Linked DNA regions of Homo sapiens. The protein of the gene in region 1 interacts with the protein of each later gene in a biochemical or structural test. Each region holds a gene or a part of one and is shown in the gene's direction. Other genes may lie near its edges.

What was found.
Region 2: the proteins of NPHS2 (region 1) and FOXC2 form a complex in vitro, tested with the Homo sapiens proteins (one study listed by BioGRID).

Annotation. Positions count from the first base shown.
Region 1 is NC_000001.11:179,565,113-179,573,524, reverse strand, and holds part of NPHS2 (podocin), read left to right. Parts: intron 1-8,412. UniProt on the Homo sapiens protein: Plays a role in the regulation of glomerular permeability, acting probably as a linker between the plasma membrane and the cytoskeleton.
Region 2 is NC_000016.10:86,562,929-86,569,828, forward strand, and holds FOXC2 (forkhead box protein C2), read left to right. Parts: upstream 1-3,900; 5' UTR 3,901-4,407; coding exon 4,408-5,913; 3' UTR 5,914-6,800; downstream 6,801-6,900. UniProt on the Homo sapiens protein: Transcriptional activator.

The DNA of each region.
Region 1 (8,412 bases):
TCCTTAGAGAAAATATTACCTGGTCAAATGTGTGTAAACAAAGCTAAGAATGCTTTGCGAGATTCTCATAGCTTCAATGTCCTGAAGAGCACTGGGAACTCCAGGAATGGGATGTAGTGCCTAGTATTCTCTAAACTCATTTGCCCAGGAAGTTCTTCTTTGGTGGAGCACTCCGTGGGATTAGTATTTCGTAGGATGGCCTTTAGAAACTGCCATACTATGGTATTCAGTGCTGATTTTGTTTTTGTGCTGGTGCAGCTTGCATCTCTGTCCTCTTCTTCAAGTGATCTGCACATCAATTTGGTGGTGACCTTTCTGGGGCATGAAAATCAAATTTTCAGGCCTACTAATTAGTTATCCCCTTTGTCCCCATCTCTTAAAAATAAGATTTTAGGCCAGGTGCCATAGCTCATACCTATAATCCCAGCACTTAGGGAGGCTGAGGTGAGAGGATCACTTGAGGCTTGGAGTTTGAGACCAGCCTGGGCAAAATAGCGAGACCCCATCTCTGCAAAAAAATAAATTAGCCAGGTAAGGTGGCATGCACCTGTAGTCCCAGCTACTTGAGAGGCTAAGGTGGGGGGACTGCTTGAGCCCAGGAGGCCGAGGATGCAGAAAGCCATGATTGCATCACTGCACTCCAGCCTGGAGAGAGCAAGACCCAGTCTCAAAAGAGAGAAAAAAAGAAGGAAAGATGAAAGAAAAGAAAGAAAGAAAGAAGGGAAGGAGGGAGGGAAGGAGGGAGGAAGGGAAGGAAGGAAGGAAAGAAGGAAGGAAGAAAGGAAGGAAAGTAGACTACCATTTCCTAATTTTTAGTCACCTTCTAGTCCTCTACGATCTTTTTAAACTGGCAAATAATATTGCTTTAGTAAGTTTTCTAGTACCTGGAGGTTAAAATTCTTGAAATTTTCATAACTCTTACATTTAAATCATTTTCATTCCTCCTTTCTTCTCACACTCAACTAATATTTATTGAGCACATGTATGGTGCCAGGCACTATTCTAAGCCCTGGGGGCATACTGTAAATAAGACAAGACCCCAAGAAGCTTGTGTTCTTGAGACTGACTCTCCTTGATATTGTTTCATTTATCACCCAAGCATCTTGGATGTTCTGAACCCCAGTTCCTTATCACTTTTTTATACATATTAGTAGGTGAATATTACCCCATAAAGTTAATTTTCAAAGACTATTGAGATCAACACCTTAATGGAGGTGTTAAAATGATGGAACTTCAGACATTAAGGCTTGTAATGAATGGGGAAGTTATTTCATGGAAGATAAGCCTCTGGACATGTGCTTGGAATCACTTAAAACAAACCGGACAGAAGATGGCCAAATAGGAACAGCTCCGGTCTACAGCGCCCAGCATGATCGACACAGAAGACAGGTGATTTCTGCATTTCCAACTGAGGTAACTGGTTCACCTCACCAGGACTGGTCGGAAAGTGAGTGCAGCCCATGGAGGGTGAGCTGAAGCAGGGCAGGGCGTTGCCTCACCCAGGAAGCACAAGGGGTCGGGGGATTTCCCTTTCCTAGCTAAGGGATGCCATGACAGACTACCTGGAAAAACAGGACACTCACACCCAAATACTGTGCTTTTCCCAAGCTCTTAGCAACCTGCAGACAAGGTGATCCTCTCCCGTGCCTGGCTCGGTGGGTCCCATGCCCAAGGAGCCTTGCTCACTGCTAGCGCAGCAGTCTGAGATTGATCTGCGAGGCCGCAGCCTCGCTGGGGGTGGGGTGTCCACCATTGCTGAGGCTTGAGTAGGTAAACAAAGTAGCCAGGAAGCTTGAACTGGGCGGAGCCCACCATAGCTCAACAAGGCCTACTGCCTCTAGACTCCACCTCTGTGAGCAGGGCATAGGTGAACAAAAGGCAGCAAACAACTTCTGCAGACTTAAACATCCCTGTCTGACAGCTCTGAAGAGAGCAGTGGTTCTCCCAGCACAGCGTTTGAGCTCTGAGAATGGACAGACTGCCCCCTCAAGTGGGTCCCTGACCCCCGTGTAGTGTAACTGGGAGACACCTCCCAGTAGGGGCCAACAGACACCTCATATAGGCGGCTGCCCCCCTGGGATGAAGCTTTCAGAGGAAGCATCAGGCAGCAATATTTGCTGTTCTGCAGCCTCCGCTGGTGATACCCAGGCAAACGGGGTCTGGAGTGGAACTCTAGCAAACTCCAACAGATCTGCGGCTGAGGGACCTGACTGTTAGATGGAAAACTAACAAACAGAAAGGAATAGCATCAACATCAACAAAAAGGTCATCTATGCCAAAACCACATCTGTAGGTCACCAACATTAAAGACCAAAGGTAGATAAAACCACAAAGATGGGGAGAAACCAGAGCAGAAAGCTGAACATTCTAAAAATCAGAGCGCCTCTTCTAAACCAAAAGGTTGCAGCTCCTTGCCAGCAATGAAACAAAGCTGGATGGAGAATGACTTTGAGGACTTGACAGAAGTAGGCTTCAGAAAGTCAGTAATAACAAACTCCTCCAAGCTAAAGGAGGATGTTCGAACCCATCGCAAGGAAGCTTAAAACCTTTAAAAAAGATTAGACGAATGGCTAACTAGAATAAACAGTATAGAGAAGACCTTAAATGACCTGATGGAGCTGAAAACCATGGCACAAGAACTTCATGACGCATGTGCAAGCTTCAATAGCCAATTCAATCAAGTGGAAGAAAGAGTATCAGTGACTGAAGATCAAATTAATGAAATAAAGTGAGAAGACAAGGTTAGAGAAAAAAGAGTAAAAAGAAACGAACAAAGCCTCCAAGAAATATGGGACTATGTGAAAAGACCAAATCTATGTTTGGATTGGTGTTGGGAGCAGGCCCCTCAAAATCTGGCCATAAACTGGCCCCAAAACTGGCCATAAACAAAATCTCTGCAGCACTGTAACATGTTCATAATGGCCCTAACGCCCAAGCTGGAAGGTTGTGTGTCTACGGGAATGAAGGCAAGGAACACCTGGCCTGCCCAGGGAGGAAAACCGCTTAAAGGCATTCTTAAGCCACAAACAATAGCATGAGCGATCTGTGCCTTAAGGACATTCTCCTGCTGCAGTTAACTAGCCCAACCTATTCCTTTCATTCGGCCATCCCTTTGTTTCCCATAAGGGATACTTTTAGTTAATTTAATATCTATAGAAACAATGCTAATGACTGGCTTGCTGTTAATAAAAACATGGGTAAATCTCTGTTCCGGGATCTCAGCTCTGAAAGCTGTGAGACCCCTGATTTCCCACTTCAAACCTCTATATTTCTGTGTGTGTGTCTTTAAATTCCTTTAGCACCACTGGGTAAAGGTCTCCCTGACCGAGCTGGTCTTGGCAGATTTGTGTACCTGAAAGTGATGGGGAGAATGGACCAAGTTGCAAAACACTCTTCAGGATATTATCCAGGAGAACTTCCCCAATCTAGCAAGGCAGGCCAACATTTAAATTCAGGAAATACAGAGAACACCACAAAGATACTCCTTGAGAAAAGCAACCCCAAGACACATAATTGTCAGATTCACCAAGGTTGAAATGAAGGAAAAAGTGTTAAGGGCAGCCAGAGAGAAAGGTCGAGTTACCCACAAAAGGAAGCCCATTAGACTAACAGTGGATCTCTTGGCAGAAATCCTATAAGCTAGAAGAGAGTGGGGGCCTACATTCAACATTCTTAAAGAAAATAATTTTCAACCCAGAATTTCATATCCAGCCAAACTAAGCTTCGTAAGGGAAGGAGAAATAAAATCCTTTACAGACAAGCAAAATGCTGAGAGATTTTATCACCACCAGGCCTGCCTTACAAGGGCTCCTGAAGGAAGCACTAAACATGGAAAGAAACAACCAGTACCAGCCACTGCAAAAACATGCCAAATTGTAAAGACCCTTGATGCTATGAAGAAACTACATCAATTAATGGGCAAAATAACCAGCAAACATCATAATGACAGGATCAAATTCACATATAACAATATTAACCTTAAATGTAAGTGGGCTAAATGCTCCAATTAAAAGACACAGACTGGCAAATTGGATAAAGAGTCAAGACCCATCGGTGTGCTGTATTCAGAGACCCATCTGATGTGCAAAGATTCACATAGGCTCAAAATAAAGGAATGGAGAAAGATCTACCAAGGAAATGGAAAGCGAAAAAAAGCAGGGGTTGCAATCCTAGTCTCTGATAAAACAGACTTTAAGATCAGAAGGGACAAAGAAGGCCATTACATAATGGTAAAGGGATCAATTCAACAAGAAGAGCTAACTATCCTAAATATATATGCACCCAATACAGGAGCACCCAGATTCAGAAAGCAAGTTCTTAGATACCTACAAAGAGACTTAGATTCCCATGCAATAATAATGGGAAAATTTAACACCCTGCTCTCAGCATTAGACAGATCAATGACACAGAAAGTTAACAAGGATATCCAGGACCAGAACTCAGCTCTGCAACAAGCAGACCTAATAGGCATCTACAGAACTCTCCACCCCAAATCAACAGAATATATATTCTTCTCAGCACCACATCATATTTATTCTAAAATTGACCACATAATTGGAAGTAAAGCACTCCTCAGCAAATGTAAAAGAACAGAAATCACAACAAACTGTCTCTCAGACCACAGTGCAATCAAATTAGAACTCAGGATTAAGAAACTCACTCAAAACCACACAACTACATGGAAACTGAACAACTTGCTCCTGAATGACTACTGGGTAAATCACGAAATGAAGGCAGAAATACAGATGTTCTTTGAAACCAATGAGAACAAAGACACAACATACCAGAATCTCTGGGACGCATTTAAAGCAGGATGTAGAGGAAAATTTATAGCACTAAATGCCCACAAGAGAAACCAGGAAAGATCTAAAATTGACACCCTAACATCACAATTAAAAGAACTAGAGAAGCAAGAGCAAACAAATTCAAAAGCTAGCAGAAGACAAGAAATAACTAAGATCAGAGCAGAACTGAAAGAGATAGAGACAGAAAAAAACCCTTTAAAAAATCAATGAATCCAGGAGCTGGTTTTTTGAAAAGATTAACAAAATAGACCGCTAGCAAGACTAATAAAGAAGAAAAGAGAGTAGATTCAAATAGATGCAATAAAAAATGATAAAGAGGATATCACCACCTATCTCACAGAAATACAAACTACCATCAGAGAATACTGTAAGCACCTCTACACAAATAAAGTAGAAAATCTAGAAGAAATGGATAAATTCCTGGACACATACACCCTCCCAAGACTAAACCAGGAAGAAGTCAAATCTCTGAATAGACCAATAACAGGCTCTGAAATTGAGGCAATAAATAATAGCCTACCAACCAAAAAAAGTCCAGGACCAGATGAATTCACAGCCGAATCCTACCAGAGGTACAAAGAGGAGCTGGTACCATTCCTTCTGAAACTCTTCCAATCAATAGAAAAAGAGGGAATCCTCCCTAACTCATTTTATGAGGACAACATAATCCTGATACCAAAGCCTGGCAGAGACACAACAAAAAAAGAGAATTTTAGACCAATATCCCTGATGAACATCGATGCAAAAATCCTCAATAAAATACTGGCAAATGAATCCAGCAGCACATCCACCACGATCAAGTTGGCTTCATCCCTGGGATGCAAGGCTGGTTCAACATATGCAAATCAATAAATGTAACCCATCACATAAACAGAACCAACAACAAAAACCACATGATTATCTCAATAGATGCAGAAAAGGCCTTTGACAAAATTCAACAGCCCTTCATGCTAAAAACTCTCAATGAACTAGGTATTGATGGAACATATCTCAAAATAATAAGAGCTATTTAGGACAAACCCACAGCCAATATCATACTGAATGGGCAAAAACTGGAAGCATTCCCTTTGAAAACCAGCACAAGACAAGGAAGCCCTCTCTCACCACCCTATTCGACATAGTGTTGGAAGTTCTGGCCAGGGCAATCAGGCAACAGAAAGAAATAAAGGGTATTCAGTTAGGAAAAGAGGAAGTCAAATTGTCCCTGTTTGCAGATGACAAGATTGTATATTTAGAAAACCCCATCATCTCAGCCCAAAATCTCCTTAAGCTGATAAGCAACTTCAGCAAAGTCTCAGGATACAAAATTAATGTGCAAAAATCACAAGCATTCCTATACACCATTATCAGAAAAACAGAGAGCCAAATCATGAGTGAACTCCCATTCACAATTGCTACAAAGAGAATAAAATACCTAGGAATCCAACTTACAAGGGACGTGAAGGACCTCCTCAAGGAGAACTGTAAGCCACTGCTCAACTAAATAAAAGAGGATAGAAACAAATGGGAGAACATTCCATGCTCATAGATAGGAAGAATCAATATCATGAAAATGGCCATACTGCCCAAAGTAATTTATAGATTCAATGCCATCCCCATCAAGCTACCAATGACTTTCTTCACAGAACTTGAAAAAACTACTTTAAAGTTCATATGGAACCAAAAAAAGAGCCCACATTGTCAAGACAATCCTAAGCAAAAGGAACAAAGCTGGAGGCATCACACTACCTGACTTCAAACTATACTACAAGGCTACAGTAACCAAAACAGCATGGTATTGCTACCAAAACAGAGGTATAGACCAATGGAACAGAACAGAGGCCTCAGAAATAACACAACACATCTACAACCATCTGATCTTTGACAAACCCAACAAAAACAAGCAATGGGGAAAGGATTCCCTATTTAATAAATCGTGCTGGGAAAACTGGCTACCCAAACATAGAAAGCTGAAACTGGATCCCTTCCTTACACCTTACACAAAAATTGATTCAAGATGGTTTAAAGACATAAATGTTAGACCTAAAACCATAAAAACCCTAGAAGAAAACCTAGGCAATACCGTTCAGAACATAGGCATGGACAAGGACTTCATGACTAAAACACCAAAAGCAATGGCAACAAAAGCCAAAATAGACAAATGGGATCTAATTAAACTAAAGAGCTTCTGCACAGCAAAAGAAACTATCAGCAGAGTGAACAGGCAACCTACAGAATGGGAGAAGATTTTTGCAATCTACCCATCTGACAAAGGGCTAATATCCAGAATCTACAAAGAACTCAAACAAATTTACAAGAAAAAAACAACCCCATCAAAAAGTGGGTGAAGGATATGAACAGACACTTCTCAAAAGAAGACATCTATGCAGCCAACAGACACATGAAAAAATACTCATCATCACTGGTCATCAGAGAAATGCAAATCAAAACCACAATGAGATACCATCTAATGCCAGTTAGAATGGCAATCATTAAAAAGTCAGGAAACAACAGATGCTAGAGAGGATGTGGAGAAATAGGAACGCTTTTACACTGTTGGTGGGAGTGTAAATTAGTTCAACCATTGTGGAAGACAGTGTGGCAATTCCTCAAGGATCTAGAACTAGAATTACCATTTGACCCAGCAATCCCATTACTGGGTATATACCCAAAGGATTATAAATCATGCTACTATAAAGACACATGCACACGTATGTTTATTGAGGCACTATTCAGAAGAGCAAAGACTTGGAACCCAAATGTCCATCAATAATAGACTGGATTAAGAAAATGTAGCACATATACACCATGGAATACTATGCAGCCATAAAAAAGGATGAGTTCATGTCCTTTGTAGGGACATGGATGAAGCCGGAAACCATCATTCTCAGCAAACTATCACAAGGACAGAAAAGCAAACACCACATGTTTTCACTCATAGATGGGAAATGAACAATGAGATCACTTGGACACAGGGCGGTGAACATCACACACTGGGGCCTGTCGGGGGGTGGGGAGCTGGGGGAGGGATAGCATTAGGAGAAATACCTAATATAAATGATGAATTGATGGGTGCAGCAAACCAACATGGCACATGTATACCTATGTAACAAACCTGCACGTTGTGCACATGTACCCTAGAACTTAAAGTATAAAAACAAAAAACAACAACAAAAACAAACAGACACATGTAAAGTAAAGCTCAGTGCTTTTTATGTGTATGTGTTATTTTATCCTTCTGCCAGAGATAGGTGATATAGCTCATGAACTAGTTATTATGGGATAGTCATGAGATGTTAGCATCCTCATAATATAGTGAAGAAACTGAGGCGTGAAAAGGTCATACGCCTTGCCTAAGGTCATCTGGATATGAAACAGTAGAGCCAGAACTGGAATCCAGACCTTCTTCACAAATTTTGTGCCTGTTCCAGTATACCCCCACTCCCTTTCTTTTTTATTTTATTTTTGAGACAAGATCTAGCTCTGTCACCCAGGCTGGAGTACAGTGGTGCAGTCATAACTCACTGCAGCGTCAACCTCCCAGGCTCAACCTTTCTTCCCACCTCAGCCTCCTGCGTAGCTGGAACTACAGGCACGCACCACCATACCCAGCTAGTTTTTAATTTTT
Region 2 (6,900 bases), on another chromosome or scaffold:
TGCAGTGAGCGGAGATCGTGCCACTGCACTCCAGCGTGGGCGACAGAGCAAGACTCCGTCTCAACAACAACAGGAAAAAAAGAAAAAAGAAAAAAAAATTTCTTCCGCCTAGGATTGAGGGTTGCGTTTACTTGTTGAGTTTCTTTAATCCTTGTGACCAACAGCAGTTCTCACTACCCACCCGCTTCTGTAGTCCTTTCTGGCCCTGCCCTTTGTCGATGGCGCAGCATGGCTTTCACTCACCGGAAAACTCACACACAGTAAAATGAGCTTGAACTGAGTTTTAGAAAAGACACTTTTTTTGTCCCACAAAAGTTTAGAAGCCGGATTACAATGGATTTTTAGGAGGTGGCGCCGACTTTGTGTAACCCAAGGGCTCCTCGGTTCTCAGGCAGCTTCTGGAAGCCTGGGACTCCTCTGCCACCCGATCCCTTTCCTCAAAACCAAGGCACCTCGTGACCCCAGAAAAGAAATGTTTGAAGGATATTGAAATGAATGAATGGGAAATAGTGAGACAAGAAACAAAACTCCTTTCACTTGTCCCCTCTTTGAGTTCTCTGTTGTACCTCAAAAGTAGAAGTGGCTGCTGCCCAGTTTCAAAGTCTGCCTCTTGTTCAAGCCAACCCTCTAAACACACGACCAGCACAAACAGCTTTCTGATGAATTCCCTGAAGCTCACGCCACACCTCGGGCAGAAAGACAGCTGCAGCGGGAAAACATGGACGAGGCAATTTGTTCAACAACTCCGGGGGAAGAAAATGCAGACTTCTAGCCACCTAAGAGGCATAGATTTTATTTGGGGAAAACCCCAGCAAGTTTCCCTAGAGAAAATTTCTTGCTCCCCGAGCAGTTTCAAAGACATTTTTGTTTCCCAACAGATCATGTTCTTGACACGTTGCGAAGTTACGGGAAATGTTTTTTAATCGACGCGATGCAGTTTATCTCCTTTCTCTGCTTTTACAGATTTCTGAAGGCTCCATTCCAGCCGTGCAATGCCCAGGAGTATCCACAAGGTGTCAGCACCTTCATGATAAGCAGGGCGGGCCGGGCGGTCTTTTTCTTTTTCCTTTTCTCGTAGTAGTTCCCTGGTTGGCCTCAAGATGACGCCAACACCCACGGAGTCCGCCCAGCCGCTCCAGGTGCAGCGGCCACGGGCCGGGAGGAGCGCAGCGCGGTGGGGGCGGAAGGCGAATTAAATACCTTTAGGCTTTATCGCCGCTTATTATTCCAGGAACACGCGAGGCCCTCTGGGACCCGATTCCGCGTTCGGCTCACTGACTTACAAGGTCAAGAAGGGGGAAAATCAGCCAGAAAGTAGCAGCCCCCCATCCGAAATACCCTGGCAGGTTAAAGAAAAGCTGGGAAATACGGTTTTTGCAAAGTCCAGGTGTATGGAAGGCGTTGTTTTAATAACCTGAACAAACATCTTTCCCGGAGTCCCACTGAGCAAACAAGAAACCTAATTCCAGGGGTAAAGGGAAGTGTCTCTCTCACCTTTTCTGTCTTGATGAGACGAATTTCTTTCCCCTCCCCTTTTCCTTTCTTTGGGGCGGGGGAGGGTGGATAATATATTGGGCGACTCGATTTAGGTGTTTGTTTGTTTGTTTGTTTGTTTCCCCAGATGACATTGGTTTAAACCGGGACACCCTTGTGAATACAAACGTAGGCAGCAACTGCCATTTTGGAATTTATTTTTTCATAGTCCTTAGCTATTTTAGGTTTTGCTGTGATAAAGCTGTTTCTCTCTCTCTCTCTCTCTCACACACACACACACACCCCTCGTAAAAGCAGAGTAAATAATATTCCTCCAGGAAGCCTACAGGCTGAGGAGTGTTTCTTGATCAATAGTTTGCATTTCCAGTAAAATCGTGACACGAACTCAGTGTGCCTGTCATGCGCTGCAGGAGAAGGGCACTTTTTGCTAGTCCTTTTTTTTTTTTAAGCTAGATGCGGAAATACTAGCTTATTAAAAATAATAAAGTCATGGTGGGAGTTTAGGGTTGGGGCAGAAAGCTCAAATCATTTGCCTGTGAGCTGAGAACTGGGCAGCTTTATTTTACTTTGTTTCAAAGAAAGAAGAAAAAGGATCAGGTTAGAAAAAGAGCCCAGAATACTCATAAAAACAATGTTTCAGAAGTGGAATATTCAAGGTAAAGGAACCTGATTTGTAGCTTCCCTTTGGCTTTGAATTGATCAGGAGACAAAGATAATGCATCTACATTTTCGTCTTCTGTTCTTTTATTGGAAATAAGTGGCACGCCCCATTGCCTTCTAGTCGCCTCCCCGAAGCGAAGAGGCCGAAGCGAAGAGGCCTGGTGGGTTGTCTCAACATCCTTTTGCTGAGAATCGAATACGCAGCCGATGAACAGCCAGGAAGGGTGCAAGGAAACCTGAAATACAAATGTTCTCCCTGAAGCCCTCTTCCCTGCCCAACCAGACCAGCAACTTCCAAAATTCTGCCCGTGTTTAGCCTTGTTAAAGGGGTGTCTCACTCCTTCAGGGAAAGTGGGAAAAGGGGATCTGATTATTGAGGTGTGGAAGGAATAAATAATCAGTCCACAAATAAACAAACTGTCCGGGATTCCTAGAGGGAAGGAGAAATCCTTGAAGGAGATCCAAGTCGCTCCAGGTCTGCCTGCCGAATAATATCATCCCGAAGGGATCTTGAACCGTTTGCAATCAACCGCTCACCCAGTCTTCCCACGGAGCGCGCTCCCTAACTCACCCTACCCACCCAACAAAACAAAAAAAAGGCTGAAATATAGAAAAGCAACTTGGAGGCTCCCAGGGGGACGTTGCCAGGAGCAGGAGGCAGGGACAGCGCCCTAGGGTCGGTGTTAGCGGCCGGCGCCGGCCTGGGCCACGGGAAACGTCCACGCTTGGTGCCCGCGGTGCGCGGCGCTCATTGCGCGCGCCTTCGAGCCAAGCCCCCGCGGAAAACAGGCTCGGGTTTCTCCTCGCAGGGCCCAGGAACTCGGCTCTGCCTGGCCCGGGTGGGTCGCTGCATTGTCCCGGTCTTCTGGGAGTGCGGGGTCAGCTTGTTAGAGGGAATTTCTACCTGGGAAAAGGGAGACGAGTTTCGAAGCTGAAGTTGGTAGGCTGCGAGTGTCCACGCGGGAGACGAAAGGGGGAAATAGCAGAGTCACTTCACCCTTTTCCCCAAACCCCACAAAACTGCTCGCAGCGACGCGGATGATCTACCGAATTCCCCGCGAATTCGGAGGATTAAGTTGTCAGTCAGCACGTTGCTACCTTCCCCTCTATGCACTCCGCTGCCTGGCTCCTCGGCGGGGAGCGAGGGAAACTCAGTTTGTAGGGTTTACCTCTAAAACCTCGATAGGTTATCCTTGACGACCCCGAGCCTGGAAACTCCCTGTTGATGATTAATTATTTGATTAAATAAGTATAACATCCAGGAGAGGCCCTGCCATTCCAATCCAGCGCGTTTGCTTTGAATCCATTACACCTGGGCCCCCATAATTAGGAAATCTAATTATTCGCTTCATCACTCATTAATAAGAAAAATGTCCCAGGATCATTGCTACTTACAAGGTCTTTGGGAGAGATATTTTACTCTATTAATCCATTCTATTTTATATTTCAAATTGATTTTTTTTAACAGAGGAAAGTGGCTATCTTTTTGTTTTGGGCATGTGGGCCCATTCACCAAAATGTGATCATAAAATAAATTTTAATAAGATATAACTTTTTAAAAAGTTTTCAAGTGAAGACGGAGTCGCCGCGGAGGCCGGGGCGGCGGGGTCTTAGAGCCGACGGATTCCTGCGCTCCTCGCCCCGATTGGCGCCGACTCCTCTCAGCTGCCGGGTGATTGGCTCAAAGTTCCGGGAGGGGGCGTGGCCCGAGGAAAGTAAAAACTCGCTTTCAGCAAGAAGACTTTTGAAACTTTTCCCAATCCCTAAAAGGGACTTGGCCTCTTTTTCTGGGCTCAGCGGGGCAGCCGCTCGGACCCCGGCGCGCTGACCCTCGGGGCTGCCGATTCGCTGGGGGCTTGGAGAGCCTCCTGCGCCCCTCCTCGCGCGGGCCGAGGGTCCACCTGGGTCCCCAGGCCGCGGCGTCTCCGCTGGGTCCGCGGCCGCCCGCCTGCCCGCGCTGCCGCCGCCGGGTCCTGGAGCCAGCGAGGAGCGGGGCCGGCGCTGCGCTTGCCCGGGGCGCGCCCTCCAGGATGCCGATCCGCCCGGTCCGCTGAAAGCGCGCGCCCCTGCTCGGCCCGAGCGCCGCCGCCCGCGCACCCTCGCCCCGGAGGCTGCCAGGAGCCCGGGGCCGCCCCTCCCGCTCCCCTCCTCTCCCCCTCTGGCTCTCTCGCGCTCTCTCGCTCTCAGGGCCCCCCTCGCTCCCCCGGCCGCAGTCCGTGCGCGAGGGCGCCGGCGAGCCGTCTCGGAAGCAGCATGCAGGCGCGCTACTCCGTGTCCGACCCCAACGCCCTGGGAGTGGTGCCCTACCTGAGCGAGCAGAATTACTACCGGGCTGCGGGCAGCTACGGCGGCATGGCCAGCCCCATGGGCGTCTATTCCGGCCACCCGGAGCAGTACAGCGCGGGGATGGGCCGCTCCTACGCGCCCTACCACCACCACCAGCCCGCGGCGCCTAAGGACCTGGTGAAGCCGCCCTACAGCTACATCGCGCTCATCACCATGGCCATCCAGAACGCGCCCGAGAAGAAGATCACCTTGAACGGCATCTACCAGTTCATCATGGACCGCTTCCCCTTCTACCGGGAGAACAAGCAGGGCTGGCAGAACAGCATCCGCCACAACCTCTCGCTCAACGAGTGCTTCGTCAAGGTGCCCCGCGACGACAAGAAGCCCGGCAAGGGCAGTTACTGGACCCTGGACCCGGACTCCTACAACATGTTCGAGAACGGCAGCTTCCTGCGGCGCCGGCGGCGCTTCAAAAAGAAGGACGTGTCCAAGGAGAAGGAGGAGCGGGCCCACCTCAAGGAGCCGCCCCCGGCGGCGTCCAAGGGCGCCCCGGCCACCCCCCACCTAGCGGACGCCCCCAAGGAGGCCGAGAAGAAGGTGGTGATCAAGAGCGAGGCGGCGTCCCCGGCGCTGCCGGTCATCACCAAGGTGGAGACGCTGAGCCCCGAGAGCGCGCTGCAGGGCAGCCCGCGCAGCGCGGCCTCCACGCCCGCCGGCTCCCCCGACGGCTCGCTGCCGGAGCACCACGCCGCGGCGCCCAACGGGCTGCCTGGCTTCAGCGTGGAGAACATCATGACCCTGCGAACGTCGCCGCCGGGCGGAGAGCTGAGCCCGGGGGCCGGACGCGCGGGCCTGGTGGTGCCGCCGCTGGCGCTGCCCTACGCCGCCGCGCCGCCCGCCGCCTACGGCCAGCCGTGCGCTCAGGGCCTGGAGGCCGGGGCCGCCGGGGGCTACCAGTGCAGCATGCGAGCGATGAGCCTGTACACCGGGGCCGAGCGGCCGGCGCACATGTGCGTCCCGCCCGCCCTGGACGAGGCCCTCTCGGACCACCCGAGCGGCCCCACGTCGCCCCTGAGCGCTCTCAACCTCGCCGCCGGCCAGGAGGGCGCGCTCGCCGCCACGGGCCACCACCACCAGCACCACGGCCACCACCACCCGCAGGCGCCGCCGCCCCCGCCGGCTCCCCAGCCCCAGCCGACGCCGCAGCCCGGGGCCGCCGCGGCGCAGGCGGCCTCCTGGTATCTCAACCACAGCGGGGACCTGAACCACCTCCCCGGCCACACGTTCGCGGCCCAGCAGCAAACTTTCCCCAACGTGCGGGAGATGTTCAACTCCCACCGGCTGGGGATTGAGAACTCGACCCTCGGGGAGTCCCAGGTGAGTGGCAATGCCAGCTGCCAGCTGCCCTACAGATCCACGCCGCCTCTCTATCGCCACGCAGCCCCCTACTCCTACGACTGCACGAAATACTGACGTGTCCCGGGACCTCCCCTCCCCGGCCCGCTCCGGCTTCGCTTCCCAGCCCCGACCCAACCAGACAATTAAGGGGCTGCAGAGACGCAAAAAAGAAACAAAACATGTCCACCAACCTTTTCTCAGACCCGGGAGCAGAGAGCGGGCACGCTAGCCCCCAGCCGTCTGTGAAGAGCGCAGGTAACTTTAATTCGCCGCCCCGTTTCTGGGATCCCAGGAAACCCCTCCAAAGGGACGCAGCCCAACAAAATGAGTATTGATCTTAAAATCCCCCTCCCCTACCAGGACGGCTGTGCTGTGCTCGACCTGAGCTTTCAAAAGTTAAGTTATGGACCAAATCCCATAGCGAGCCCCTAGTGACTTTCTGTAGGGGTCCCCATAGGTGTATGGGGGTCTCTATAGATAATATATGTGCTGTGTGTAATTTTAAATTTCTCCAACCGTGCTGTACAAATGTGTGGATTTGTAATCAGGCTATTTTGTTGTTGTTGTTGTTGTTCAGAGCCATTAATATAATATTTAAAGTTGAGTTCACTGGATAAGTTTTTCATCTTGCCCAACCATTTCTAACTGCCAAATTGAATTCAAGAAACCGATGTGGGTTTTGTTTCCTGTACAATTATGAGATATAATTCTTTTTCCCATTGTAGGTCTTTTACAAAACAAGAAAATAATTTATTTTTTTGTTGGTGGATAAAGAAGTCAAGTATCTGATACTTTTTATTTACAAAGTGTGATGGTTTTGTATAGTAGGTTCCACCCTGAGTATTCCTAAAAGAAAAAAAAAAAAAAAGCTTAAAAACTCTAACTTCATCTGTGTTTGTCTTACGTGGTCTTAATCGTTGTACTTACCTTAAAATAAACCCATGTTGTTTTTTCTGCCCAAAGTTTGGACAGTGTGTTTGTGTTGTTGCATTTTTTACAAACGAGGTGTGTTTGCAAACCCACCTGCTTTGATTATTTTTGTTACACAGGTGGGTATATGTG